7 linked regions of the Homo sapiens genome follow. The gene in region 6 interacts genetically with the main gene of each other region. Each region holds a gene or a part of one and is shown on either strand. Other genes may lie near its edges.

The links.
Region 1: changes in HAPSTR1 (region 6) and CFI together harm fitness less than expected from each alone (positive genetic interaction), as found in Homo sapiens cells (one large-scale study listed by BioGRID).
Region 2: changes in HAPSTR1 (region 6) and ZNF736 together harm fitness more than expected from each alone (negative genetic interaction), as found in Homo sapiens cells (one large-scale study listed by BioGRID).
Region 3: changes in HAPSTR1 (region 6) and MRPL37 together harm fitness more than expected from each alone (negative genetic interaction), as found in Homo sapiens cells (one large-scale study listed by BioGRID).
Region 4: changes in HAPSTR1 (region 6) and CPSF7 together harm fitness less than expected from each alone (positive genetic interaction), as found in Homo sapiens cells (one large-scale study listed by BioGRID).
Region 5: changes in HAPSTR1 (region 6) and SPACA7 together harm fitness less than expected from each alone (positive genetic interaction), as found in Homo sapiens cells (one large-scale study listed by BioGRID).
Region 7: changes in HAPSTR1 (region 6) and DIRAS1 together harm fitness less than expected from each alone (positive genetic interaction), as found in Homo sapiens cells (one large-scale study listed by BioGRID).

The regions. Positions count from the first base shown.
Region 1 is NC_000004.12:109,746,500-109,749,999, reverse strand, and holds part of CFI (complement factor I isoform 2 preproprotein), read left to right. Parts: intron 1-397; coding exon 398-501; intron 502-678; coding exon 679-782; intron 783-3,497; coding exon 3,498-3,500. UniProt on the Homo sapiens protein: Trypsin-like serine protease that plays an essential role in regulating the immune response by controlling all complement pathways.
Region 2 is NC_000007.14:64,312,744-64,316,760, reverse strand, and holds the start of ZNF736 (zinc finger protein 736), read right to left. Parts: upstream 2,801-4,017; 5' UTR 2,611-2,800; coding exon 2,608-2,610; intron 1-2,607. UniProt on the Homo sapiens protein: May be involved in transcriptional regulation.
Region 3 is NC_000001.11:54,206,667-54,210,166, forward strand, and holds part of MRPL37 (large ribosomal subunit protein mL37), read left to right. Parts: intron 1-3,279; coding exon 3,280-3,465; intron 3,466-3,500.
Region 4 is NC_000011.10:61,409,476-61,412,975, forward strand, and holds part of CPSF7 (cleavage and polyadenylation specificity factor subunit 7), read right to left. Parts: intron 2,463-3,500; coding exon 2,294-2,462; intron 1,631-2,293; coding exon 1,468-1,630; 3' UTR 1,463-1,467; exon of another isoform or gene 1,106-1,462; intron 1-1,105.
Region 5 is NC_000013.11:112,403,855-112,407,354, reverse strand, and holds part of SPACA7 (sperm acrosome-associated protein 7 precursor), read right to left. Parts: intron 1-3,500.
Region 6 is NC_000016.10:9,090,297-9,094,443, reverse strand, and holds the start of HAPSTR1 (HUWE1-associated protein modifying stress responses 1), read right to left. Parts: upstream 2,801-4,147; 5' UTR 2,400-2,800; coding exon 2,174-2,399; intron 1,524-2,173; coding exon 1,443-1,523; intron 1-1,442. UniProt on the Homo sapiens protein: Acts as a central player within a network of stress response pathways promoting cellular adaptability. The E3 ligase HUWE1 assists HAPSTR1 in controlling stress signaling and in turn, HUWE1 feeds back to promote the degradation of HAPSTR1.
Region 7 is NC_000019.10:2,718,573-2,722,572, forward strand, and holds the start of DIRAS1 (GTP-binding protein Di-Ras1), read right to left. Parts: upstream 2,801-4,000; 5' UTR 2,732-2,800; intron 906-2,731; exon of another isoform or gene 1-905. UniProt on the Homo sapiens protein: Displays low GTPase activity and exists predominantly in the GTP-bound form.

The sequences.
Region 1 (3,500 bases), on a different chromosome or scaffold from region 6:
AAAGAAAAGAAAAGACACAGTTTGCCATGTTGTTAGTTTACCCTGATGATTTCAGAATGTGATTCCCTTCTGAGCTGCCACTGCCACAGTGCCTGGACATGTGGCATCCTTTATCAGCTAGAGGCTGGTAAATGTTTAACCTCTTGGCCAGCCCTTTTCTGCCACTAGTCTATCTTTAGGCAGAACTTCAGAGAATCAAGCCAATTTTAATATCAAGCCAGAATTTTTAAATAAGATGAATAGTATGGTTTAGCATTCAAAATAATTTACTAATGATTCCAGCCTGTCTTGTACTGGCTGTGACTCTCCTGTTTTTGTGGCATAGATAATCAAGAAGTGTGTTAAAAACGCTAATGGGTTCAAGATAATAATGATGTAATCTCTTCCTTTCTTGAAGAAAGAAGACGGATAAAATCATTATTACCTAAACTATCTTGTGGAGTTAAAAACAGAATGCACATTCGAAGGAAACGAATTGTGGGAGGAAAGCGAGCACAACTGGTAAAGTCGCATGAAAAGTCACAATGCAACTGCCCAGAAACAGCCTAAATTTGGGGGGAAAGGGGCAGGAGGATGATGTAATTATAAGAGACTGGGAGTCTTGCCATGGAAATATCTTAGGGCTGTTTGTATCGCTATCTGTTAGAATGGCAGTGACCACACAAATGTCTTTTACAGGGAGACCTCCCATGGCAGGTGGCAATTAAGGATGCCAGTGGAATCACCTGTGGGGGAATTTATATTGGTGGCTGTTGGATTCTGACTGCTGCACATTGTCTCAGGTAAAAGATGTCTTCAGTAAATTTTAGATTTCCCGAAACAATGAAAGTGAGTAATAGAGATTGTGGCAGATGATAAAGCATATCTGAAAAAGGTACTGACAAACTCCACTATATTAATTGCAAAGTATCCTCTGGTATTCGCGACTGGAATTCCAGAGGCTAATCCCGTAGAATCTACTGTGTCCTCCACAGACCAAAATTGCTGATCTCACTGGCAAAGGCAGATCAAACCCATAGCTGCCAAATTACTTCACCTGGCTTATTTGCAAAGTGGGAGAGTGGGTAGGTACTACTTACATTTTGTTCTCCACTGTGGCCTACCTATATTTTCTTTACTGTGTGGCTCAAGAGTCATGTTGCCATACCTAGTTTTGATTACTTGTCACCTAAAATGCAATGACTTTGCATTCCTCTTAGGATAAGAATTGAAACAAAAATTTTAACATGGCCCATGAGGCCCCATGTAATCTGACCTCTGCTAACCTTTGCCAATCTCATCTTGCCCCACAGAGCCACCTCCTGCTCCCTGTTCCACCACCTCTACTCTGGATTGCTTTCTGCTACTCAAGTGCATTTGCCCCCTCCTGCAAAGGGACCTTCATATATTGTTTCCCCTGCCAGAAATGATCTTCCTTACCCTTTTCCCTACTTAGTCGTACCCTTTGTTCAGATCTCAGCTCAATCTTCACTTCCTTAGGGAACCTTCCCTGACTCCCTTAAGTCAAAGCCCTCTTGATAAGTTCTTAAAAGCCCACATACTGTTCATTCCTCTCACTTTTCATGGTAGAACATATTATTTTCATCAGTGTGATGATCCATTTACTGCTGCATCTTTCCCTAGATCGTGAACTCCATGAAAGCAGGAACTGTTTCTGATTTTGCTCATTTCTGCATCTCAGTGCCTAACACAGTGCCTGGTACATATAGGTTCACACTAAGTATTTGTTGAATAAATTGACTAAATAAATAATATTTACAACCTGTGATCCTGAAAAACAATCAAAATTAATATGAAGGACAGTATTCTTGGAACACTATAAACAAAAGCTTCCTGAACATCTCATTATTTCCTAGGACACCACCTTTTAAGGTGGTTACCTGAATCACCCTTATGTAAAGATAAATTCTGTTCAGTTAATGCTGTTTGAGAAAGCAGAAGTTATATAGATCAGGGATACTCTACCCCTGAGCTGCAGACAAGTACTGATCTGTGGCCTGTTAGGAACTGAGGTGAGTGGTGGGCGAGCATTACCACCTGAGCTCCACCTCCTGTCAGATCAGCAGCAGCATTAGATTCTCATAGGAGTGCAAACCCTATTGTGAATTGCACATGTGAAGGATCTAGGCTGTGCAATCCTTATGAGAATCTAATGCCTGGTGATCTGAAGTGAAAGCGTTTCATCCGGAAATCATCCCCTCCTCCCCCGAGTTTTCCACAGTTCCATGGAAAAATTGTCTTCCACAAAACCTGTCCCTGGTGCCAAAAAGGTTGAGGAACACTGATATAAATAATACATTTTTTGAAAAGATTTCCATTAAATTGTTTAAAAATAAGTTTTATTGCTTAAGAAAAATCCATTCTGTAAAATAATTTATTGTTTGGAAATGTTAGACTATGAGGTCATAATTTAGCACCCTACTTCTAATCAAACCAAAAAAACTAAGCTATAATACTTTGCCGAAGTGACTCTATACTGTTCCATGAGAAGATGATGGTAGATGCCTGATTTGCTTGAAACTATGAGTTGAAAATTGATAAGAGGCCAGGTGCGGTGGCTCACGCCTATAATCCCAGCACTTTGGTAGGTTTGAGACCAGCCTGGGGAACATAGCAAGACCCCATTTCTACAAAAAAATTTTTTTAAATTAGCTTAATGTGGTGGCACATGCCTGTAGTTCTAGTTACTAGGGAGGCTGAGGTGGGAGTGTCTCCTGAGCTCAGGAGTCAAGGCTGCAGTGAGCTATGTTCACACCACTGTACTCCAGCTTAGGCAAAAGAGTGAGACCCTGTCTCTGTTTTAAAAAGAAAGAAGGGAAGAAAGAAACTTGATATGAAAATGTAGTGAAGCATAAGAATAGGCAATATTTAGCTCATTCACCATTTCAACAGGATTTTAAAACAGCTACTATGATCCAGATATAATAGTAGGCACCAGGGCTGCACAGATGAATCAGACCCCATCTCTGGCTTCAAGCAGCACAGTCTAGTGTGAGGAAAGGCATGTGAACAAATAAATACAATGCAATGTTAGGATAAAGTTAGTCTTAAGGGTCAGGATAATGACTGCTGTGGCCTTTGCCCTGGGAACCTCTAGGGTTGGCAGAGTAATGAGTGTGTGTGGTCCAACTCCCTAGTTCCTTAACTACATTTATGGCAAGATGCTGTCTGGTCTCTGCTTAAACACCTGCAGCGACGGCACACTCACTCCAGAGGCAGCAAACTCATTCCACTTTTGGGCATCTCTAGTTGTTAATGTGTTCTTTATGTTCCTCATATTGAGCAGTTACATGGATTATTCCTAGCTTTATCATTTACCATTGACCTAATTCTGCACTAAGTAAATTTAATCTCATTGCTTCATGACAGCAAGCATTTACAAAATTCTGGGGAAATGAAAAAGGTTTTTAAAAGGGAAAAATATAAAAGTGAAGTGTCAGAATTCCTATTTATATTTTTTCTCAATATATTTTATTTCCTTTTTTTTTCTGTTATAGAGC
Region 2 (4,017 bases), on a different chromosome or scaffold from region 6:
TTAGAAAATTTTTTTTTTAATCTTTCAAGCTCTAATGATAAAATCCATTATACAATTAATGAAAAACTGAAGTTGAAATAACTGAACATATATATTGAAGGTGACAAACACAGGGAGAAGTAGTGCTGACTGGAACACAAATGTTTTAGACTCATGTGTCAATCACTTGAGAGATTCTCCCACCCCCATTCTGCTCACTAAAGTACTTGATCATCACTCTCCCAAAAGATACTGCACTTGCCCCCTGTGTGGCAGATGTGTATTTTGCTTTGCAAATTTATACACTCCCTCACTAGAGTGGATCTTTCCTGTACTTTGGGACAGTTATTCTCCTTCACAAGCCTGAGAGAAACCAGAGGGCAAGATGCATTTGTGCCTTTTCCCCTCAATATCAGCACCTGATTGGTTGACCACCAATGTGTCTGCAAGAAATGAAAACTAGGATTGAGGGGAAAAAAATCTTAATGTTAAAGCAGTTAGCTTTTTAGAGGAAGGGTGAATCAGGAAACTGCTCTCAGCACGAGGGCATCCAGCTGCTCCCCTGAGAGGCTCCACCCAATGCCTCAGGCTCTTCTCTGAAAGGAGATGACCCAGGGGCTAATGTTTGCTAGACACTCCAAGAGATATGGTCCTTGTGGGTATCTTGGATCATCCCCAGAAAGCTGTAATACTTGGACCAGGAAAACACAGGAGAGTGACTGAGGACACATCACCCTGCAAAGGATCCAAAGACATTCTGGGAAGGCGCGCGTGCCTAGAGAAGATGAGAGGAGATGCGCAGTGTCAGGTGACTACTCTTTGCTTTTCTGTCCTGTGAAATATGCACAAACAGACTAATATATTAAAAAGAGCCACCCACGGCTCTGTTAAACAAAAATAAACAAAATGCCACATCCGTTTTAAAATTAAATAAAGAACTGATAGTTCATAATGTGATTTGGAGAGGGATAGTTGGCATTTGGGAATGTGGGAAAGAAATTGGAAATTTAGAATTTTATACAGTCCCTAGAACAGTTAGGCTGGGAGAACAGTTTTAGATTTGAGACCCTGCTTGCCAAACATTTGAAAAATGCAGAGAAAACCAACGACCCTGTGGAGCATTAAAATAATTAAATAGCTAGCAATTAGGCTGAAGTGGCCATGGTGCCCTGGGATTCTGCCTAAGGAAACCTAACTACGTCGAAGGAATTTCTGGTAAATTATTAACTTTGAGAAACAACAACAACAACAACAAAACAACTTAGGCTTAACCAACCACAAGCTGCCAATAAAAAGCTCTAATTACATAACCAGGACATTTCCACCGGAGGGCTGCAAATGCAATACGTAACTGTAACCAATCAAATATTGAATCTGGTTTGCTTCCTCATACCTCTTAAAAAAAAAAAACAACCTTTTGTTCCAAGACCCTCCTTTGAGCCCCCAAACAACAAATCATAGCTGGGTGTTCTCTGATTGATAAATTACTGTTTGTGCAAGTAAACTATTTGTATTAATCGCTTCTGGCATTACTATAAATACCTCAGACTGGGTAATTTATAAGAGGATTAATTGGCTCATGGTTCCACAGGCTGCATAGAAAGCATAACACCAGCGTCTGCTTCTGGGGAGGCCCCACCCAGAAAGCTTAAAATCATGGATGAAGGTGAAGCAAGAGCTTGAAAAAGAGGCAAGGTGGGGTGCTGTACACTTCTAAATGATGAACTTCAGGGAACTCACTCACTATTGAGAGGACAATACCAAGAGGAATGGTGCTAAACTATTCGTGAGAAATCCGGGCCCACAATCCTTCCACCAGGCCCCACCTCCAACATGGGGGATTACATTTAAATAGGAGATTTGGGCTGGAAAACACATCCAAATTATATCCTAAAGTTGCCTCAATTTAGGCTAGGGTGGTGGGTCATGCACGTAATCCCGGCACTTTAGGAGGCCCGAGGCGGGCGGATCACCTGAGACCTGAGCTCGGGGAGTTCGAGACCAGCCTGAGCAACATGGCAAAAGCCTGTCTCTACAAAAACAAACAAAACAAAATAGGCGTGGTGGCGCACCCCTCTAGTCCTAGCTACTTGGGGGGCTGGGGTGAGAGGATCATCTGAGCCCAGTAGGTGGAGGCTGCAGTGAACCGAAATGCACTTTAGCCTGGGCAACAGAGTGAGACACTGTCTCAAAAATAAATAAATTTAAAAAAGGGCCATGATTTTATTTTTAAAAGGAGAAAGGAGGGACTAGGGACCCCACGGCCCACTGCTTCTTCCACGGAGGAACTCCAGACCCTAAATGAGAATTCCCGTCTTATGACACTCCCAACACCCCCACACAATCTGGAGGAGGGAGACTCGAGGTTGCGGCACAGAGCTGCCCAGGAAGGGATCTGAGCTGGGGAGAAATTCGAGTTTAGGGACAAAACAAGACGTAGCGTTTTGGCTGCTGGCTCAGCCCCTAATCTGCGATGGAGGGAAATGAGGATTGAGCTGTGCCCGCGGGGACTCGGGGATGCAGACTCCAGAGCAGACCGCGAGAAGGCCCAGATACCACCGCAGCCGGTTCCGGCCGGATTCAAACAGCCTCTTCCCCATTCTCGGGACACCCACTCCACGCACTCACCATTTCCCAGCCTCCAGATGTTCCGCCGTCCTCCCTATGGATCTCCCAGTACCTGCAGGTCACAGGATAACAGAAGCTATAGTAGAGTCACCGAGGAACTCCAGGAACGGAGGAGATGGAACAGTGGAGACGCGAACTAGGATCAGAGCCCGGAAGCTAGGAGACAAAGGCCCCGCCATATTGAAGAGGCCGCCTCTTCCTCTGTAGCTGCGCACTTGATTGGACAGTTTCACGCTGGCGCCACTGATTGGCTAGGGCTCCAGGCCCCACCCGTTTCAATCCTAAGTGACAGAAGATGTAATCAGACACTGGGCTGAATGAGGCAAGGGTGACAGGTTTTTGCCTGCAGCGTTTTCAGGCGAGTCCTCCCTGTGCTGGGGGCCTGGCCCTGCCTGAGAGACATTTGTATTTAACCTTGCATATAAGATTATATCACTTTCTGATTATATTTTCGTGTGTGTGTATATATTACATTCTGAATTATAGTTATGTGTATGCTGCAGGCCCTGTCTCAGCATCCTGTCTTTCCCTTTAGCTGCAGGAGATCAAAGTCCTCCAGGAGATGCAGCTGCTTCAGCTGGCTGTAGACAATTATCACCTTCAGTCTGTGAAGCAATTTTGGGTCTGCTTCCAATTAATGGAGTGTCTCAGTGAGACTGAGAGGTGAGGGCCTAGCAGATTGGTTAGAGGTGCCACTCGCCCAGGCCTCCCAAAACACCCTGTCTCTTTCCCACCAAAGCTGAGCCTGCCTGAGGACCTAAACAAGCATGGAGAACCAAGATGGGACCCTAGTCAGGGATAGTGCTGGGCTGTGGGGTAAAGTCAGCTAGGTCAGGGCCTCCAGGTGTGGGGAGGAGCCGGCCTCTTCTGTAGAGCCCTGGGCAAGTCACTGCCCTCTTTGGGCCTCTGTTTTCTTATCTAAAAAATGTAGGGATGATGAGCCTCACAGGGTAATGAGGAGCTTCAAAGGAGAAAAATTTGAGAGTGCTTGTGCCTGGCTCTTCCTGAGAGAGATGATGATGAGAACAATGGTGACGGCTACATATAACTGAGTCCTCACGAGGCCCAGTGAGGTAGGTGTGGTTCCCATCACACTTTCAAGTTGAGAAACAGTCTCAGGGAGGCCTGGCTGCATGCCCAAGGTTCCACACACAGTGAGTGTTGCAGCAGGGAGTGAATCTAGAATCAGAGTTTACTGGAGGTGGCAGGAGCACTGGACCAGCTTGACTCACACCAGTTATCCAGGGTACCAGGTCAATGTAACTGGGCATAACTGGGTGAAGGGAGCATAATATCACTGACCTTGTCCTTGACCCTGGCAGAGGAAGACACCCAAGTTGGCCACCCTAGAGAAGAAACCACAGAAAGCCCAGATGAGGCTAAAGCAGCAAAAAGGCAGGTACCTGTGAT
Region 3 (3,500 bases), on a different chromosome or scaffold from region 6:
CCTAAAGTGCTGGGATTACAGACATGAGCCACTGTTCCCGGCCTAGAATACTCTTTTCTGCTTTCTTTTCTTTTCTTTTTTTTTTTTTTCCAGATGGAGTTTTGCTCTTGTTGCCTGGGCTGGAGTGCAGTGGCGTCAGCTCACTGCAACCTCCGCATCCTGGGTTCAAGTGATTCTCCTGTCTCAGCCTCTCAAGTAGCTGGGATTACAGGTACCCGCCACCATGCCCAGCTAATTTTTGTGTGTGTGTGTGTGTGTGTATTTTTAGTAGAGACGGGGTTTCACTATTTTGGCCGGGCTGGTCTTGAACTCCTGACCTCAGGCAATCCACCCGCCTTGGCCTTCCAAACTGCGGGAATACAGGCGTGAGCCACCGTGCTTGGCCCGCTGCTTTCTTCATTTAACCAAATTCTCCTTATCTGCAAGACTTCACTCAAGCCCCCCTTCTCTGTGAATCCAGGCTGGGGTATCTTTTCCTCCTCTGTGTTCTTTATGCCCATTCTGCCATCATAGCACAGATTACACTGTATTGTCAGTATCTACTGTCGGTTCTGTCTACCCCACTCAACTGAACTCCTAATGGCTGGGACCATATCTTACTCACATTGTCCACAGTGTCTAACAGTTCATGGTACACAGTAGGTGCTGACTGAAGGGATGTGTAAATGCATATACCTACTGTTGGTGTTTCAGGCAGGGATGTTCAGAGAACACAGGTGTTCTAACTGGTGGAATCCTGGAGCAGGAAAACCAGCTACGGAATGATCTGGGATTTCAGGACATCTGCTTGGTCAGGATTTGTGTATAGACTTCCTGGCAATGAGTCAGCTTTGCAGAGGTAATGACACCACTAAGGAAATTAGTGAACCTCATTAATAGAGGAGTACTTGGCCCATCATCAAGTATTACCTCTAATTAAACTACCCCATTTGGAGCTGTCACTGGAGGAGGGATATGGAGGGAATTGAATCAGAAACCACACAAGAGTGGTCTGTGGGGAGAATGGAAAACCCAAGGTTAAGAGAGGTCCATGCACATTTATTTTTCTTGCAGATTATATGTGAGGAAACAGGAAATACTTTAGAAAACTATTCTTGAGGTGTGACAGATCAGAGTTTATCCACCCCCAGATGTAGTATCCCTTTCTTACCTATCCAGTAAGGGAGGCCACATGCTAATTAATGACAGTGCTGTTGACCAAACCAATTCTTAGACATACAAGAAAACCGGCCTTGATCCATTACCATCACACTGTGGCTATTTCTGAAAACCCAAGCACCTTCTGAGAAAGATTTGCCTCCGTGGATACTCCTCAGGAGGCCATTCTCAAGGTGTTTTTCCAGGCACATTTTGTCTGGTGGTAGCATGTGACCTCCTGTGGGGACCTCTGTGAAGGGCATCTATGCATGTTCACAATGGCTGGCTTGCTGATGAGTCAGATGTGAGTTTGTTTTCCTCTTGTCACCTACGTCTGCATGTAGCATATATGCTAATCCGACTTCAGTGAGGCTGTTTGACTGGCTAGGGTTTTCTCACTCTCAGTTGTTAAGGACAATCTGGCCCCTTTCCTAAGTTTAAGAATCTCCTCTGCCTTGGCTGGGTGCGGTGGCTCATTCCTGTAATCCCAGCACTTTGGGAGGCCAAGGTGGGTGGATCATGAGGTCAGGAGATCAAGACCATCCTGGCTATCACGGTGAAACCCGGTCTCTACTAAAAATACAAAAACAAAAAAATTAGCCGGGCATGGTGATGGGCACCCATAGTCCCAGCTACTCGGGAGGCTGAGGCGGGAGAATGGCGTGAACCCGGAAGGCGGAGCTTGCAGTGAGCTGAGATTGCGCCACTGCACTCCAGCCTGGGCGACAGAGCAAGACTCCGTCTCAAAAAAAAAAAAAAAAAAAAAGAATCTCCTCTCTAACTCTAGTCTCAGTGCTCCTCTCTCTCTCCATCACTTCTTCCCTGCTGTATCCTACTCTAGTCACCTGGATTTCTCTCCTTAAATTCTGCCACGGAGTTGCCTGCACCTGACTTTTGCACATTATTCCTCCTTAACTAGAGTGCTTTTCCCCCTTTCTTTGCCTGGCAAGCTCTTACCCAGTGGTTTTCAACTAGGGACAGTTTTTCCCTCTGGAGAACATTTGGCAGTGTGTGGAGACATCTTTGACATGATGTGGATGGGGTGTGGGGAGTTGGGATGGGGAGGGAGTTAAAATGGCATCTAGTAAGTAGAAGCCAGGATGCTGCTAAACATCCCACAGTACACAGGACATTCCCTCCCCCCACTCCGCCAAAGAGTTATCTGATCCAAATGTGAATAGTGCTGCAGTTGAGAATCTCTGCTCTTATCCATCCTTCCAGATGTCATTTTAAGGCATTGCTTCTTTCAGGGAACTTCCCATTCCCAGAGAAGTTCAGTTTTCCCCACCTGTACAATTTTTGAATATGTTTCATCCTTTTCACTGTAGCACTCACTACCTGGTGGGCTCCTTGAGAGGAGAGAGTAACTCTCACACATCTCTGGTTCCCCAGGTTACAGCAGGTGCTCAGGAAGATCTGGATGGGGCAGGCTTCGCTCCCCAGAGACCATCAGCCCTCAGGGTTTACTAGGAAGGGAACACAGGAAGAAGAGTGCATTGGTTCATCCCCTCTTAGGGATCCCAGGATTAACATCCTAACTCAAAGTTTTGTGTTCTGTGATTAGGCTGATCAAGAAATGCTATAAATGACTTGAGGCACATGGGAGGATGAAGGCTTTAGACTTTGCAGGATTGAGAAAGTCTTTAATTTTTTTTTTTTTTTTTTTTAAGTTTTTTGAGACAGTTTCACTCTGTCACCCAGGCTGGAGTGCAGTGCCGTCATCTCAGCTCACTGCAAGCTCCGCCTCCCAGGTTCATGCCATTCTCCCGCCTCAGCCTCCCGAGTAGCTGGGACTACAGGTGCCAGCCACCATGCCCGGCTAATTTTTTGTGTTTTTAGTAGAGACTGGGTTTCACCGCGTTAGCCAGGATGGTCTTGATATCCTGACCTCGTGATCCACCCGCCTCAGCCTCCCAAAGTGCTGGGATTACAGGCGTGAGCCTACCATGCCTGGCCAATTTTTTGTATTTTTTAGTAGAGATGGGGCTTTGTCATGTTGCCCAGGCTGACCTAGAACTCCTGGCTTCCAATGATCCACCTGCCTTGGCCTCCCAAAGTGCTGGGATTATAGGCATGAGCTACTGCGCCTAGCTGCGAAAGCCTTTAGTACCAGGTTAGAGTAACCATTTTTCTCCCTTTTAGAGTCTCTTCTCCTTCAAGTCCGTGGTTCTGGTGGAGCCCGACTGAGCACTAAGGATCCTCTGCCCACCATCGCCTCCAGAGAGGAGATTGAAGCTACTAAGAATCATGTTCTAGAGACCTTCTACCCCATATCACCCATCATCGATCTTCATGAATGCAATATTTATGATGTGAAAAATGACACAGGTAAGGATCAATGTCTTGGACTTTTAGGCAGTGTG
Region 4 (3,500 bases), on a different chromosome or scaffold from region 6:
AACAAAACAAAAAACACAACAACAAAATAAACAACCTTGTCACTAAGTCTTTTCCAAAAGCAAAAAACCCTTCCGTTGAAGTTAATTATCCACCACAAAGCCTCTAAACCTGTTAAAGATAATTTTTCAGATCAGCTTTCTCCTCTCTGACTAAAGCATATTAATTTTCAAAATCTTTTAAATAAACCGTTTTTTTTTTTTTAAAGAGATGGGGTCTCGGCCAGGCATGGTGGCTCACGCCTGTAATCCTAGCACTTTGGGAGGCCAAGGTGGGCTGATCACGAAGTCAGGAGTTCAAGGCCAACCTGGCCAGTATGGTAAAGCCCCGCCTCTACTAAAAACAGAAAAATTAGCGGGCGTGGTGACGCGCGCCTGTAGCCCCAGCTGCTGGGGAGGCTGAGGCAGAATAGCTTGAACCCGGGAAGTGGGGGTTGCAGTGAGCTGAGATCATGCCACTATACTCCAGCGTGGGCGGCAAAGTGAGGCTCTGTCTCAAAAAAAAAAAGATAGGGTTTCACTATGTTGCTCAGGCTGGTCTCAAACTCCTGCTTAAGTGATCCTCTAGCCTCTGCCTCCCAAATTACTGAAGTGATGGGATTACAGGCATGAGGCACCCACCCGCCCCTCCTCCCTACCTTTTTTCAGACAAGGTCTCACTGTCGCTCAGGCCAGAGTGCAGTGGTGCAATCACAGATCACTGCAGCCTCGACCTCCTAGGCTCAAGCAACCCTCCCACCTCCACCTCCTAAGTAGCTGGGACCACCACACTTGGCTAATTTTTGTATTTTTTGTAGAGACAGGGTCTCCCTATGTTGCCCAGGCTGGTCTCGAACTCCTGGCTCAAACAATCCTCCCATCTTGGCCTCCCAAAGTGCTGGGATCATAGGTGTGAGCCATCATGCCAAGCCTAATTCTTAAAATCATTAATGTTGCAGCTTGAAAACTAAGTGGCAATGGCTTTACTATTCTTAGTCAATTTTCCTAATTTAAATTGAAAGTTCATAATGATAATAACAATGGCTATTAATTATTGAGAACTTACTATGTGACAGGTACCATGAGTGCTAAATGGTCTACATGGACTCTCTCACTAAAACTTAGCAAGTCACTGGGACAGTTGCTTTTATTATCTTCATTTACAAATGAAACTGTGGAACAGAAAGTAATATGGCCAATTATTAGTGGAGAAACTGGGATTCAAATTGGTACCTGAATGCAGACACCATACTCTCACTCAGATACCAGGTTAAGGCAGTCAAGAAACAAGCAGAAACAGCTGAATCTCAGGGTAAGACTCCCCATAAATGTGCAGAAAATCTGCCCTGAAATTCCAGTTATGTAAATCAGAAGTTCCCCCTACCCTTGCTGCATTTACTTTTGCTTTAAAGAGAGAGAATTCTTCACTATAAATCTTTTTTTAATAAAAAATCCCCCAGCAGCCAGGAACGGGGCTTCTCCCCACCTTTCTCAGTGGTGCCGGTCCCGTTCTCTATCCCGGTGTCTCTCATGCTCCCGGTTCCTTTCTTGGAAATAATCATCATGCCGATCTTCATTATGAAGCAGATCCCGGTGCCTCCTGCTGCTCTCCCGGGACCGGCTAGGTGACCTTTCCCGGGAGCGATGTCTTTTCCTATTAGAAAGATCCTTCAGCCTCACTCAGAAGGCCTACCACTTTCTTTCCAAGAATGTGGTGTTTTGGTGTCTTCTGATATTTGCCTAAACTATTCCTCTATTACTCTATCATGGGCCTGCTGTCTGAGGATTTTAGCTCTTTGAGGACTACTCTTTTTTGGGAAGATGATTAACAGGTAAATTTATCTGTTGAGAACTAATTTATCAGGTGTAGTGCTAATAATTTTGTATGGATTATCTGACCTAATCTTTACAACAGGTCTGTAAGATAAATACTATCAGTGTCCCTTTTTTAGAAAATGAGAAAAATAAGGCTTGGAAAGTTGACTAACTTCCATACACAAGAAGGTCATACAGATAGTTAGCAGCAGAACTGGGATTCCAATCCAAGCTTGTAGGGCTCCAAAACCCATGTTCTTAAAAATATCTGTCTGTATTTTTTCCTACATGAGCCCACTGCCTCACCCACCAGATTCCAGATGTTACAACACTTATTAATGAAAGCATCTGATTAGTTTCTTCCCCAAAAAGACATGAAGGCTAACGTCCAGACTTTCGGCCAGGTCTTTCCCAGATTCCCTGGGCTCCATTTGTCCCCACTCCCTATCCCTGGAAGAGTGCTGCTTGGGGCTGGTAGGTGAGGACACAATCACCAACTCACCTGGAAGAGCTCCCACTGGCACCCACACTGTAGGACTTGGCTTCGATGCCATGAAGACAGTCCTTAAGAGAGGAGATGAGGACACGGCAACGCTCATCATTGGCAACCCGGGACTGTTTGATAACCGCAATGGCTGTGAGCAGCGTCTCAATTGCGTCACTGTAATCCCCTGATAAAGGATGAAGGAGAAAGGCCAAGGGTGAGGAGAGATGGTAAACTAACTGGACCAAAAGGAGAACTCAGGCAGACACAAACCAAGAGTAGCTAGCCGTCCCAAACAACCGCGGTAAAAGAGACAAGGCAGATGTTGCAAGTGTAAAACTGGATGACACCTATATTCCAGCAGTTCGGAATTTAACAGATGTTGTCAGATGAACAAACTGACACACTGTTGTCCAGGGGCTATTTGACATCTATTAAAATAAACAATGTGCATATTTTTTGAGCCAGCAATTCTATTAAAAATTTTCTACTTCTGTTCACAAGTGTGTATGTTTAACAGTGTTTTAGTGTTTATTTTTTTTCATTTTTTTTTTTTTTGAGACAGTCTCACTCTGTTGCCCAGGCTGGAGTGCAGTGGCCGTGATCTCGGCTCACTGCAAGCTCCGCCTCCCAGGTTCACGCCATCCTCCTGCCTCAGCCTCCTGAGTAGCTGGGACTACAGGCGCCTGCCACCACACCCAGCTAATGTTTTGTATTATTAATAGAGACGGAGTTTCACCGTGTTAGCCAGGATGGTCTTGATCTCCTGACCCTGTGATCCGCCCGCCTTGGCCTCCCAAAGTGCTGGGATTACAGGCATGAGCCACTGCGCCCGGCCAGTGTTGTTTGTTATATTATCTTCAATAGGGTCTGGCTATATAAAGGAACATTGGTTCTACAGAATATTACATTATTAATGTACTATTAACAATTAAAAAAGCAGGAGGTAAACCTGTATGTAAACAAAGTAATCCATGTAAAGCCCTTAGCACAGTGCCAGGCACACAGTAAGGATCAATAAATGTTATGTTATATGTTGATATAATAGGTGTCCAGAATATACTAATTGAAACAAGCAAGTTTCAAAACCATATCCTGTTTTTGTAAAAACAATAAAAATTATATAAATTGTCATATGCATAGAAAAAATTCTGGAGGAATATAAACTATAAAAGGTGGTCTTATTGGTTGATGGTCCTTGTATAGAGGACTATTTTGTTTTTGA
Region 5 (3,500 bases), on a different chromosome or scaffold from region 6:
TCTTGCCTTCTGCTAGCTTTTGAATGTGTTTGCTCTTGCTTCTCTAGTTCTTTTCATTGTGATGTTAGGGTGTCAATTTTAGATATTTCCTGCTTTCTCTTGTGGGCATTTAGTGCTATAAATTTCCCTCTACATACTGCTTTAAATGTGTCCCAGAAATTCTGGTATGTTGTGTCTTTGTTCTCATTGGTTTCAAAGAATATCTTTATTTCTGCCTTCATTTTGTTATGTACCCAGTAGTCATTCAGGAGCAGGTTATTCAGTTTCCATGTAGTTGAGTGGTTTTGAGTGAGTTTCTTAATCCTGAGTTCTAGTTTGATTGCACTGTGGTCTGAGAGACAGTTTGTTATAATTTCTATTCTTTTACATTTGCTGAGGAGTGCTTTACTTCCAACTATGTGGTCAATTTTGGAATAAGTGTGATGTGGTGCTGAGAAGAATGTATATTCTGTTGATTTGGGGTGGAGAGTTCTGTAGATGTCTATTAGGTCCTCTTGGTGAAGAGCTGAGTTCAATTCCTGGATATCCTAAGAACAAGGAATATTTATCTCCTGAAGAAACATAGCGAATGTAACACAATCCACATAATTTTATAATATTTTGATAGAGTTGTGATGAATTATCAGTCACATCCATAATGTAAATGGGCTTAACTCATCCATTAATGTTACCCATCCTAATGATTGTGAGGTAATATCTCATTGTAGTGTTGATTTATATTTCCCTAATAATTGGTGATAATGAACATCTTTTCATGGACTTATTGGCCATGTATATCTTCTTGGAAAAAAATCTCTATTCAAGTCCCTTGCTAATTTTTAGATAGAGTTATTTGTTGTTGGGTTTTAGGAGTTTTTAAAATACATTCTCAATATTAATCTCTATCAGATATGTAATTTCCAAATTACTTGGCCTTAAAAAGAGAGAAAATTCTGACACATGCTAAGACAGGGATGAACCTTGAAGACATTATGCTAAGTGAAATAAACCAATCACAGAAGGACAAATACCGTGTGATTCCACTTATATGAGGCACCTGACTAGTCAAATTCATAGAAACAGAAAGTAGAATGGTGGCTGCCAGAGCCTGGAGGGAGGCAGAAAGGGGAGTTATTCCTTAATGGTACAGAGTTTCAATTTGGGGTGATAGAAATAATTCTGGAGACACATGGTGGTGATGGTTAGACAGCATTATGAATATGTTTAACATCATGGAACTGTACAGTTAAAAATGGTTACCATGGCAAATTATGTTGTGGGTATTTTAGCACAATTTTAAAAATTGAAGAAAAAAGCAAATGAATAAAAATAAAAGTTTAAATGGTAAACTAAAAAATAAAGAATGGACAAAATATATCTTATTATTTAATATGAAAGCAGAGAGATAGTGGTCCTTATGGCAGAGAAAGAAATATCCAATCCTCAAAACATTAACATGACAAAGAAAGTATCTTTTCGATGCTAAAAGTTGGAATTCACAACGAAGATATAATATTCATAAAAATCTATGCACCAAATAACACAGGAATCACACTCATAAAGCAAAAACTACAGAAAATGCAAGGAGACACAGAAAAATATTTATAATAGAGAATTTTTACACTATTCTTAACAAAAGACAGGTTGAATAGGTGTAAAATGTAAGAGGAGACTTAAACAACATAATCAAAAGGTTGTTGTTATTAACACACACCAGATTCCAGTTAAATCTTGACACTGGAGAATACACCTGTTTCTCAAGTGCTTATGGAACATTCACAAAAATTGAATATATTTATGAAACCATGAGCAAATTTTGTAAAGTAAAACTATTACAAACAGTACTTTCTGATCACAGGGCAATAAAACTAGAAATTATTATGAAAAACAAAGACAAAATGCCCTGTTACCTGGGAATTGGAAAACTTTTGGTTAAAAGGGAAATACAAGCTAAAATGATAAATTTCTGGAAAATAATAATGAAAACACTATACATGAGAATCTGTGAAATACATTTAAAGAAACACAGCACTAAACACTTATTGGTAAAAGGAAAAAAATAAAAGAATTACTGAGGTCTAAAACTAGAAAAAGAGCAAGAAAGTGAACTATAAGAGAAAATAAAGAAGGTAATATTAGTGACAAAGGCAGAAATTAATGAGGTAAAGAAGAAAATACATCCTGGCTAACACGGTGAAACCCCGTCTCTACTAAAAATACAAAAAATTAGCTGGGCATGTTGGCGGATGCCTGTAGTCCCAGCTGCTCTGGAGGCTGAGGCGGGAGAATGGCGTGAACCCGGGAGGCGGAGCTTGCAGTGAGCCGAGATAGCGCCACTGCACTCCTGCCTGGGCGACACAGCGAGACTGTCTTAAAAAAAAAAAAAAAAAAAAAAAAGAAGAGAATACAATGGAGCTAATTAGTATATCAAAACACTGGATTTTGTCTTAAAATTTATATGGAATGAAAAAAGAGCTTGCATAGCCAAAGCAAGACTAAGCAAGAAGAACAAATCTGGAGGCATCACATTATCTGACTTTAAACTATACTATAAGGCTATAGTCACCCAAACAGAATGGTACTAGTATAAAAATAGGCACATAGACCAAAAGAACAGAATAGAGAACCCAGAAATAAAGCCAAGTCCTTACAGCCAACTGATCTTCAACAAAGCAAACAAAAAACATAAAGTGGAGAAAGGACACCCTATTCAACAAATGGTGCTGGTATAATTGACAAGCCACATGTAGAAGAATGAAACTGGATCCTTGTCTCTCAGCTTATACAAAAATCAACTCAAGATGGATAAAGGACTTAAATTTAAGACCTGAAACCATACCAATTCTAGAAGATAACATTGGAAAAAAACCTTCTAGACATTTGCTTAGGCAAAGACTTCATGAGCAAGAACCCAAATGCAAATACAACAAAAACAAAGATAGATGGGACTTAATGAAATGAAAAAGCTTCTGCACAGCAAGAGAAATAATCAGCAGAGTGAACAGACAATCCACAGAGTGGGAGAAAATCTTCACAATCTATACATTTGATAAAGGACTAATATCCAGAATCTACAATGAAAAAATCAGCAAGAAAAAACAAACAATCCCATCAAAAAGTGGGCTGAGGACATGAATAGACAATTCTCAAAAGAATATATACAAATGGCCAACGAACAGTTGAAAAAATGCTGAACATCACTAATGATCAGGGAAATACAAATCAAAACCACAATGCTATACCACCTCACTCCTGCAAGAGTGGCCATAATCAAAAAATCAAAAAATAATAGATGGTGATGTGGATGTGGTAAAAAGGGAATGCTTCTCCACTGCTGGTGGGAATGTAAAGTGGTACAACCACTATGGAAAACAGTGTGGAGATTCCTTAAAGAACTAAAAGTAGAACTACCATGTGATCCAGCAATCCTACTACTGCATATCTACCCAGAGGAAAAGAAGTTATTATATGAAAAAGACACTTGCACATACATGCTTATCACAGCACAATTTGCAATTGCA
Region 6 (4,147 bases):
ACACTCCCAGAAACCTTTTTTTTAATTAAGTATTATTTCAAAATTCTGTTTTTGGACAAAACCAAGAGCCATTCCAAAACGTTCAAGACCGTCAGCACTGATAGATGTTGAAGCAATTTACTCAGTCACAATTTAACAAACAGCTATATAAAATCAAAGCTAACCACTGAGGCACTATTTAACCATGTTTCCCTTTTTTCAGTAAGACTGGACTATTATTATTACAGTTCCTCATTCCCTAAAGTTAGCGTTTCTTTTCACCACTTTGTTACCAGTTCTCAAATTACTGTCCCAAAAAACTGTAGTCTACTCAAGAAATCTCACAAGGAGATATTTTTTCCTACAAGATGCTGCGGCCATTTGCACATTCTTATGCAAAAATTAACAACTTGACAGTCAAGCAGCACCTTCATAGCCCGTTTCAACCTATATATGGCCTAAATATATATGGCAAAAATACCAATATTGGTATTTTTGAAATGCACAAAGTTCCATTACTGTTCTGAGCAACTTTTAAAAGTCTGAAAACATTTAATTACATATTTCTTAAGATTAACAAAGTCAAATCCTTTTTCCATAAAAATCTTGCCAAAAAAAAAAATCAACCCCAAATTTCTCAATCTTCAAAACCAGTAAGGCACAAAATCTAAACCCACCGTTACCAAGAATGCACAAATGGGCAAGAACGTTTACTTACACATCTTCATGTCATCACAAAGGGAGGGGGATTAACTCCAGAAAGGAACCACCATAAAACAAACCTATGGACTCAAAACTCTCAACAGAATTCCTGCCAGCAACTTATAATCAAATATAGGATCCTTTTAACAGAAAACACTTGATCAAATTGCTAGAGAAGAGCAGCACGTTAACATGCGCGCAGATGACTCCGATTAGCAAGCTTTCAAGCACTTCAAAACTATATAGACTGCCACGCTTTCAAATGCCTAACTCAAGAATCTTTTCCATAAAGTTCGTCCCACTTCCGACTGTAGTACAAAAAACATCAACTCTTATCTTCCCTCAATGTCTTTTCCAGAGGGAGGCAAGGCTCAGCCGTCTTCCAGCTCAACGCTTCTCAACCTGAGCACTACTGACTTTAGGGGCATGATAATTCTTCGCTGAGAGGGGGCCGGGGCGGTTATCTTGGGCACTGCAGGACCTTCAGCAGCCTCTATACACTGGGTGCCCAACAACAGCCCCTTCTAGGAGAAGCCAACCAAAAACGTCCCCAGGCGTTGCCATCTGTCCCGGGGGGCGGAGGGAGGTGTCAAAATCGCCTCCGGTGGATCTAGCTAGAGCACCGCCGCGATTCTCAAGTTGCAAGGTATTCAAGGTTAGCAGCTGGGCTGGGGAGCAGAAAACACACTTGGAACGCAGGGCAGACACCCTGACGCAGGCGGCCCTTCCCTGAATCGGCAATGCAGCAAGGTTATCTTTACCTTTGTAGAGATTGGTGACGGCGGTGGCTGCGTTTTGGAAGGGGACCCAGAGAGAAAGTCCTGGCTGCTGACACACTCGGTCTGAAAAGCAAGCCAAAAAAAAAAAAAACCAAAAAGAAAAAAGAAACACACATAGAAAGAGAAAGAAAGAGAACAAGAATGTTATTTGCGCGTCAATCACTCCGGAACGGCCATATTAGGTTTCGCCATTTTGTTCAGGGGTTTCGGGATCCCAAACCCAGTGTGAGGACCGGGGGGGCAGGGAGGTCGCGGCGGGGAAAAGGGGATGCCGCAGAGCTCAGGGGCACAGATCAGGGACGAGCCGCGGCGCAGGGAAGCGCCCCCCCTGGCAGTCCCCGCCCCGAGGCCGGCTCAGGGCACAATGGGGCCGCCCCGCCGTCTCCCTTCGCCATTTTGTGACGGGGGCTCCTCCTCTCCCGTCTCCGGGCCGAGGGGGACACCGGGTGGCCGGGCCCGGAGAGCGGGGACCCTCGGACCACCCCAAAGCGGGGCTACCCCCACGCCGGCTCTGGCCTGTCCCCCCAACCCCGGGCCTCCCTCCCGCGGCGCCATCTTGCGGGGAGGGGGCGGCAGGGCCGCGGAGCCACCGGCCGGGATCCCCGAGGCCGCCGCCGTCGCGGCCCCCCGAAGCGGCCGCTGAGCCGATAGGGCCGGGGCCGGGCCCGGGCGGGGGCGGCCAAGCGGTACCAAGATGGCGGCGGCGGCCTCACCTTTGTAGAGCTGGGCCACGGCGGTGGCCGAGTTCTGGAAGAGGTGCCACAGCTTCTGCTGCTTGTGCTCGGGCTGCGCGGCGGCCGCCGCCTCCTCCTGCAGCTCGGGGGGCAGCTGCTCGTCCTGTTCGGCCTCGGCCAGGCACTGCCGCTCCCACTTGGAGAACCAGTGCTCGGGCCCGTGCTCCTGGATCTCGGCCTCGCCCTCCTCCTTCCGCTCCTCCATCCTCCGCGGCCTCCCGCGGCCTCGCCGCCACCGCCGCCGCGTCCTCCTCAGGCGGGGCCCCCGCGGGAGCGTCGTCGTCAAGCGGCCCGGCGGCAGGGCCTGGCGACCGACGGCGCCTTCTCCTTTCAGCGGCCCAGGCCTCCTGCACCCCGACGGCCGGCGAGCCCCGCCCCGCGGCCCCGTGCAACCAGGGACGACCCCCGCCCCAGGCCTTCCCACCCCCGGGCCCGGCCGAAGGTCGCCGCGGACCAGATAACCGCTGCCGCCCCTCGCCTCGGCCGCCGCAGCCTGTCTAACGCCCCCCCATGGCGCTGCGGCCTCCCCACTGCCGCCGCCGCCGCTGATCGCCGAGCCCTCCGCGCAGCTCGGCCTGCACCGCGGAGCCCACCCCAAGACTGAGCAACGTCGTCGTCGTCGCCACCGCCGAGGACGGCTCTGCGGCTGCTGGTCCCCGCCCTACCCCGCCCACATGCTGACAGGAGAAGCACCGCCCACTGGGCCCAAGCTACCCTGCCCGGTTGAGGCGTGGCCGCTCCAAGGGCCCCTATTAGTCGGATCCGGCCGGTTCCGCGTGGCGGCTTCTGAGCACAGCGTCGTGATTGGTTCTTCGGCCTGTCTGCCTGACGTAACCAATTGGCTGGGGGAAGGGAGTGAATGTCAGGAAGGATGAAGGAGGAGGAGGGGGAGGAGCTGACAGTGGTTGCGTCCGAGCCAAGGGGGCGGGTGGGGGGTGGAGGGGAAGAGCTAGAAGGGATGCGCATGCGCACTTGCTCGCTGCTCCCCCCCCCGCTCAGGGGCGTTGAGTGGGGATCACGTGACGAGGCCCAGCGACCGCACCCCGCGGGAGCTTTTCCGGCGTGTACAGGCCCTGGGGGGATGCAAAGTCGAGTGCGGCTCCTGTGCCGCGGGCACTGAGAGGTATAGTGGGTGGTAGCGTGCTTACTCCAGCCCCTGGGGCTCCCAAAGGGAGGAGGGTAGTAGAGAAAGTGAATAAAACGCCCAACTCGTGTCCAAGTTTGCAAAGCGCTTTCCTATTCTTTTGAGTACTCCCCCTTTTTTTTTTTTTTTTTTGAGACGGGGTCTTGCTACGTTGTCGAGGTCTAGACTGCTGGCCTCAGGCGATCTTCCAGCCTCCCAGGGCGCTGGGATTACAGGCTTGAGCCACCGCGCCCGGCCCAGAGTCCCATTTCTTAGACGGGCAAATCGACCATCACAGCCAAAGAAAAACTTCCGAGTTGCGAAGTCGGCTCAGTTGCCCCTGCGCCCTGGCGTCCCCCGAGGACGTCGCGCCTTCCGGGTGGACAGGACCTCGGCGGCCGCCCGCGGAGCCAAGGATAACCCGACGGCCGACGGTGCCCGGTGCCCGCACGCGTGCGTCTGCGCCTTTGCGCGCGCGGCGGCCCCCGCACCTGTCCCGAAAAGCACACTCCCAGGCCACGTGCATGCCCCGCGTCACGTACCGGCCCCTGCCTTCCCCGGCCCGAACCCGCGTGGCGGTGCCGAGCGCTGCGCCCGCCCCTACTCCCCCCGCAGTGCGCGATAGCTGGACGCCCCTGCGGCTGCGCGCCCCCCTCCCCTGTCGGGGCTTTCTCCAGGGTCTGAGGCCCCGGAGAAGGCAGCAACGCAGACAGGCGGTGACCGCACAGAGGCAAAACCCACCATCCCCACCTACATGCCCACGGGAGGCACCATCCGGCCTGGAGCGGCGGAGGGCGCCGGCCAGAGGCAGCGTCGCCCGCAGCCTGCGA
Region 7 (4,000 bases), on a different chromosome or scaffold from region 6:
TGGAGTGCAATGGCACAATCTTGGCTCGCCGCAACCTCCACCTCCCGGGTTCAAGCTATTCTCTTGCCTCAGCCTCCCAAGTAGCTAGGATTACAGGCATGCACCACAAAGCCCGGCTAATTTTATATTTTTAGTAGAGGCAGGGTTTCTCCATGTTGGTCAGGCAGGTCTTGAACTCCTGACCTCAGGTGATCCACCCACCTCGGCCTCCCAAAGTGCTGGGGTTACAGGCGTGAGCCACTGCACCTGGCCTTCTTATTTTTTTTAAAACCAAGTCTTGCTCTGTTGCCCAGGTTGGAGTTCAGTGGTGCAATCTCGGCTCACTGCAACCTCTGCCTCCTCGGTTCAAGCAATTCTCCTGCCTCAGCCTCCAGAGTAGCTGGGATTACAGGCATGCACCACCACACCCGGCTAATTTTTGTATTTTCAGTAGAGACGGGGTTTCGCCATGTTGGCCAGGCTGGTCTTGAACTCCTGACCTCAGGTGCTCCTCTCGCCTCGGGCTCCCAAAGTGCTGGGATTCCAGGTGTGAGACACCGCATCCAGCTGGAACTTGTATTACAGGGCTGCTCTCCTCACCTGCCATAAATGGGATCCTGAGGCTGGGAATCTGAGAACCACAATTTGCAAATCAGGGCACTGATTCCCAATAGCCGCCCCAGGGAGGAAGGGTCTTGCAGCCCAGGTGGGACACAAAAATACAAAATCCAGAAGCTGAACGGGAAAATCGCCACTCCCTAAACTCTAAAATCAAACTATGGCCTGGTGTGCCCTAGCCCCTCCCGTTCAGGTCTGAAGGATCCTTAGAATAGCACTTCCTGGGAGGGGCACCTCTTAGCCCCTCTCTTCCTTCTTGGGCTCAGAGAGGTCCAGCAGCCTGAGGAGGTCACACAGCACAGCAGATCCTGAAATGATGGAGGTGGGGGAAGAACGCTGGGGGGAGGGCGGGTGGCTTATCTCCAGAATTGATGTCCTCCCCTCCCCTTCCTCCTTCCAGGCTCTGGGGCAGCGGTGGGGGGTGGGGGAGGGGTGTTCCCCAGCAAGGTGGTCTACAGTGGGAGAGGAGGAGGAACCAGTTTCTACCTGCTGCACTGGGGGTGGGGGTGTGTTTATGGGGAGGGTCCAGAGGTTCCCCGGGGGTCAGTGGTTTGAACCTAAACAGGCAAATTCAAGTCCCTAAGCCTCCGTTTTCTCTTCTGTGAAATGCGAGCCACTGTTGGGGCAAGTAAGGTGACAAGGTGGAGAAAGGCCCTAGGCAGTGCCCTGTACAGCGGAGACCCCGATCACAATTGTGATCACAGTCACAAGGGCTTGGGGCCGGTGGGCAGGGCACTTGGCTGTGCCTGTTGGTTGCAAAGGCACCTTCTGGATTATCAAGGGTAACAGATTTGCCAGGAAAAGAAAAGAGGCTGATGAAAGCGCCAGCTGACACAGTCCCCAGTTGTGATGAGCCAGGCAAACTTCTGGGCGCCTCGGCAATGCCAACTCATGTGATTGGCTGCCGGGTTTGTGGACTACATGCATAGTAATTTCTCGGCATTCGGAGGAGGCTGGGGGTGCTGGTGGTGGGGGGGAGGCGGCCTGTGCTGCAGACCCTGCCCTTTCCTGGGTGGGCGCCCTGAGAGGCGGGCACGCTGCTGTGCAGAAAGACGCCACCAAGACCGGCCTGGGGTCCTAATGGCCATGGGTTCTGTGGACCCAGATCCAGCCTTTGCCTTGCTGCGGGCACTGAAGCTCCAGCCCCCATGAGCAGTACTGTCCTCCCCGCTGGGTCTGGAATCCCTGACCAGAAAGGCGCTTGCACTCAACAGCCCCGAAGCCCACGCCACTTCCCACCTCCACCGCCTGGGGGGTGCGGGTGGAGGGAGGGGGTCGTGGGCACCGAGGCAGGAGCAGGAGGGGCTGGCTCAAGGTCACAGAGCAGGGGGGTGGAGGCGCACAGCGGGGCTGGAAGCCCACCCTGCTTGGCTAGACTCCTGGGGTTTCCCGCCTGTGCGGGGCAGCCCACCCCCAGACGTCCAGGCAGGGCCAATCTACCCCAGCCCTGGGTCCCTGAAGCCCGGCTCCCGGCCGGGCACGGCGTGGTTGGTGGGGGCGGGGGTGTCAAAGCAAAGCTCAGGGTCAGGAAAGCAGAGAGAGCCGCGACCCAGGGGTCTAGCGGGGGTCACGCCTGACCAAGGGTGGGGCGGGGGTCTGACCCAGGGCCGCCTGGCCGGTGAGGGGTTTGATGGAGAAAGGGCCTGCTCTAGGGGGCCCGAGGGCGCAGAGGCACAGTGCGGGGCCAGCCCAGGGGCGACCCTTGACTCAGGAGGACCTCAGTGGTGGAGAGGAGGAGCCCACCCCGGGGAGGGGGCGCGGAGGGAGGGGCTTGGCTGGGCAGCGGGGCGGAGGGCGAAGAAGGCGGCTGCAGGAGGGAGGAGGCCCTGCCCGAGGGGACCAATGCGGAGAGGGGCGGCGGGGTGGGCCTCGGTGGGGCGGGCTCGGCAGGGGGGCGCCCTCCGGGTGGGGGAGGGGAGGCGGCCGGGAGCTGTCCAAGGTGAGCGCGGAGGGGCCGGCCGGGCCCGGCGGGAAGGGACGGGGGACGCCCGGCGAGGGGCCCCGGAGCCACGCGGGGAAGGGCCCGGCCCCAAGGCCCGGGAGGCTGGGGCCGGGACAAAGGAGGGACGCGCGGCGGGGAGGACGGCCGGCTGGGGGCTGCGCAGGGACCCCCTCCCCGCCCCGGGCCGCCTACCTGGGCCCGCTGGTCCCTGCGGCGCCGCGGCCGCTGCTCCTGCCCGCTCCGGTGTCCGCTGGCGCCGCCGCCCCCCGCCCGCCCGAGCCGCCGCAGTCGCGCCCGCGCCGTCCCCGCCCGCCGGGCCCCGCGCTCCGCCCCGCCCCGCCCCGCCCCGCCCCGCCCCGGGGACCCGCGCCCACGGGGCCGGCGCGCCGCCCGGCCAAGGTCACCGCCGCCCCACGCGGGACCCCTGCCCGCGCCCGGGGTGGGAGAGGTCGCCAGGATCCGGGACCCCCGCCCTGCCACGTAGCCACCTGCGCGCGCCCTCCCTCGGGGTGGGAGCTGGGGCCGCTTCCCGGGGAACCCCGAGTGGGGGCCAGGAGCCCGGCTTGGGAGGAGCAGAGTCCAGCCGGGGGTGGAGGGCTTTGGCAGAAATGCGGATAAAGGGGGTGCAGAACGGGACCCCTGAGGCCGGCTGGGGCCCGGTCACACGCAGGGCGGGGAATCAGAGGGGTGCGTTGTGAAATGAGTAAGTCGATAATCAACAATCAATGAACAGGTTTAGAAGCGGGCAGAGGCGGGAGGGTTCAGGTCAATGGGGTGCACCTGGAGGCCCACCCATCCCAGGGGCCTGGGCAGGGGCGGGATGGGGGCAGAAGCGGACTCAGCGCTCTGTAGGGCTGGTTTTGTGGAGGCGGAGGCAGCCCATGGCAGTCAGGCCTAGGGAGGTGGGGGGTGAGCAAAGGGGGCTGGCGCTGCTCTGCAGCGGATGGGTTTGCCGTTTTCGGTTAGGAAAATGTTTGTGTTCCCCCAACAGGAGGTGTCTTAGGGGAGCACTGGCTTTTCTGATGCGTCTGTGTGTCCACAAGAGACCATGGTTCCGCCTCCATTTTGGAGACCGGGAGGCCGAGGTTCCTTTTGGCCTCATCGGGCAGATCCCAGAGGAGACTGGACTTTGGGGTCTAGTGACCAGGCCAGAAGGTGCTCTCAGGGGTGGGTGCGGGACAGTCCCAGGCCGCAAGGCTGTCAGAGGAAGGCGCCCCTTGGTGGAGAGGCCAACTCTGGGACCCACAGGGGTCTCTCCAGAGTCAGAGCCATCAGTGGGTGAGAGGCTGGTCTGGAAGGTGGTGAGCTCCCCATCACCAGGCCTGTGAGCAGGTGAACCCCTTGGGCCCTCAGCTCCTGGGGTTCTCCATGACCCACCATTTCCATGGCCCTGGATGAGGTGGGCCCATCTGCCTCTGCGGAGACTTGGCACTGCCTCCAAGACCACTCAGTCCCCTCTCC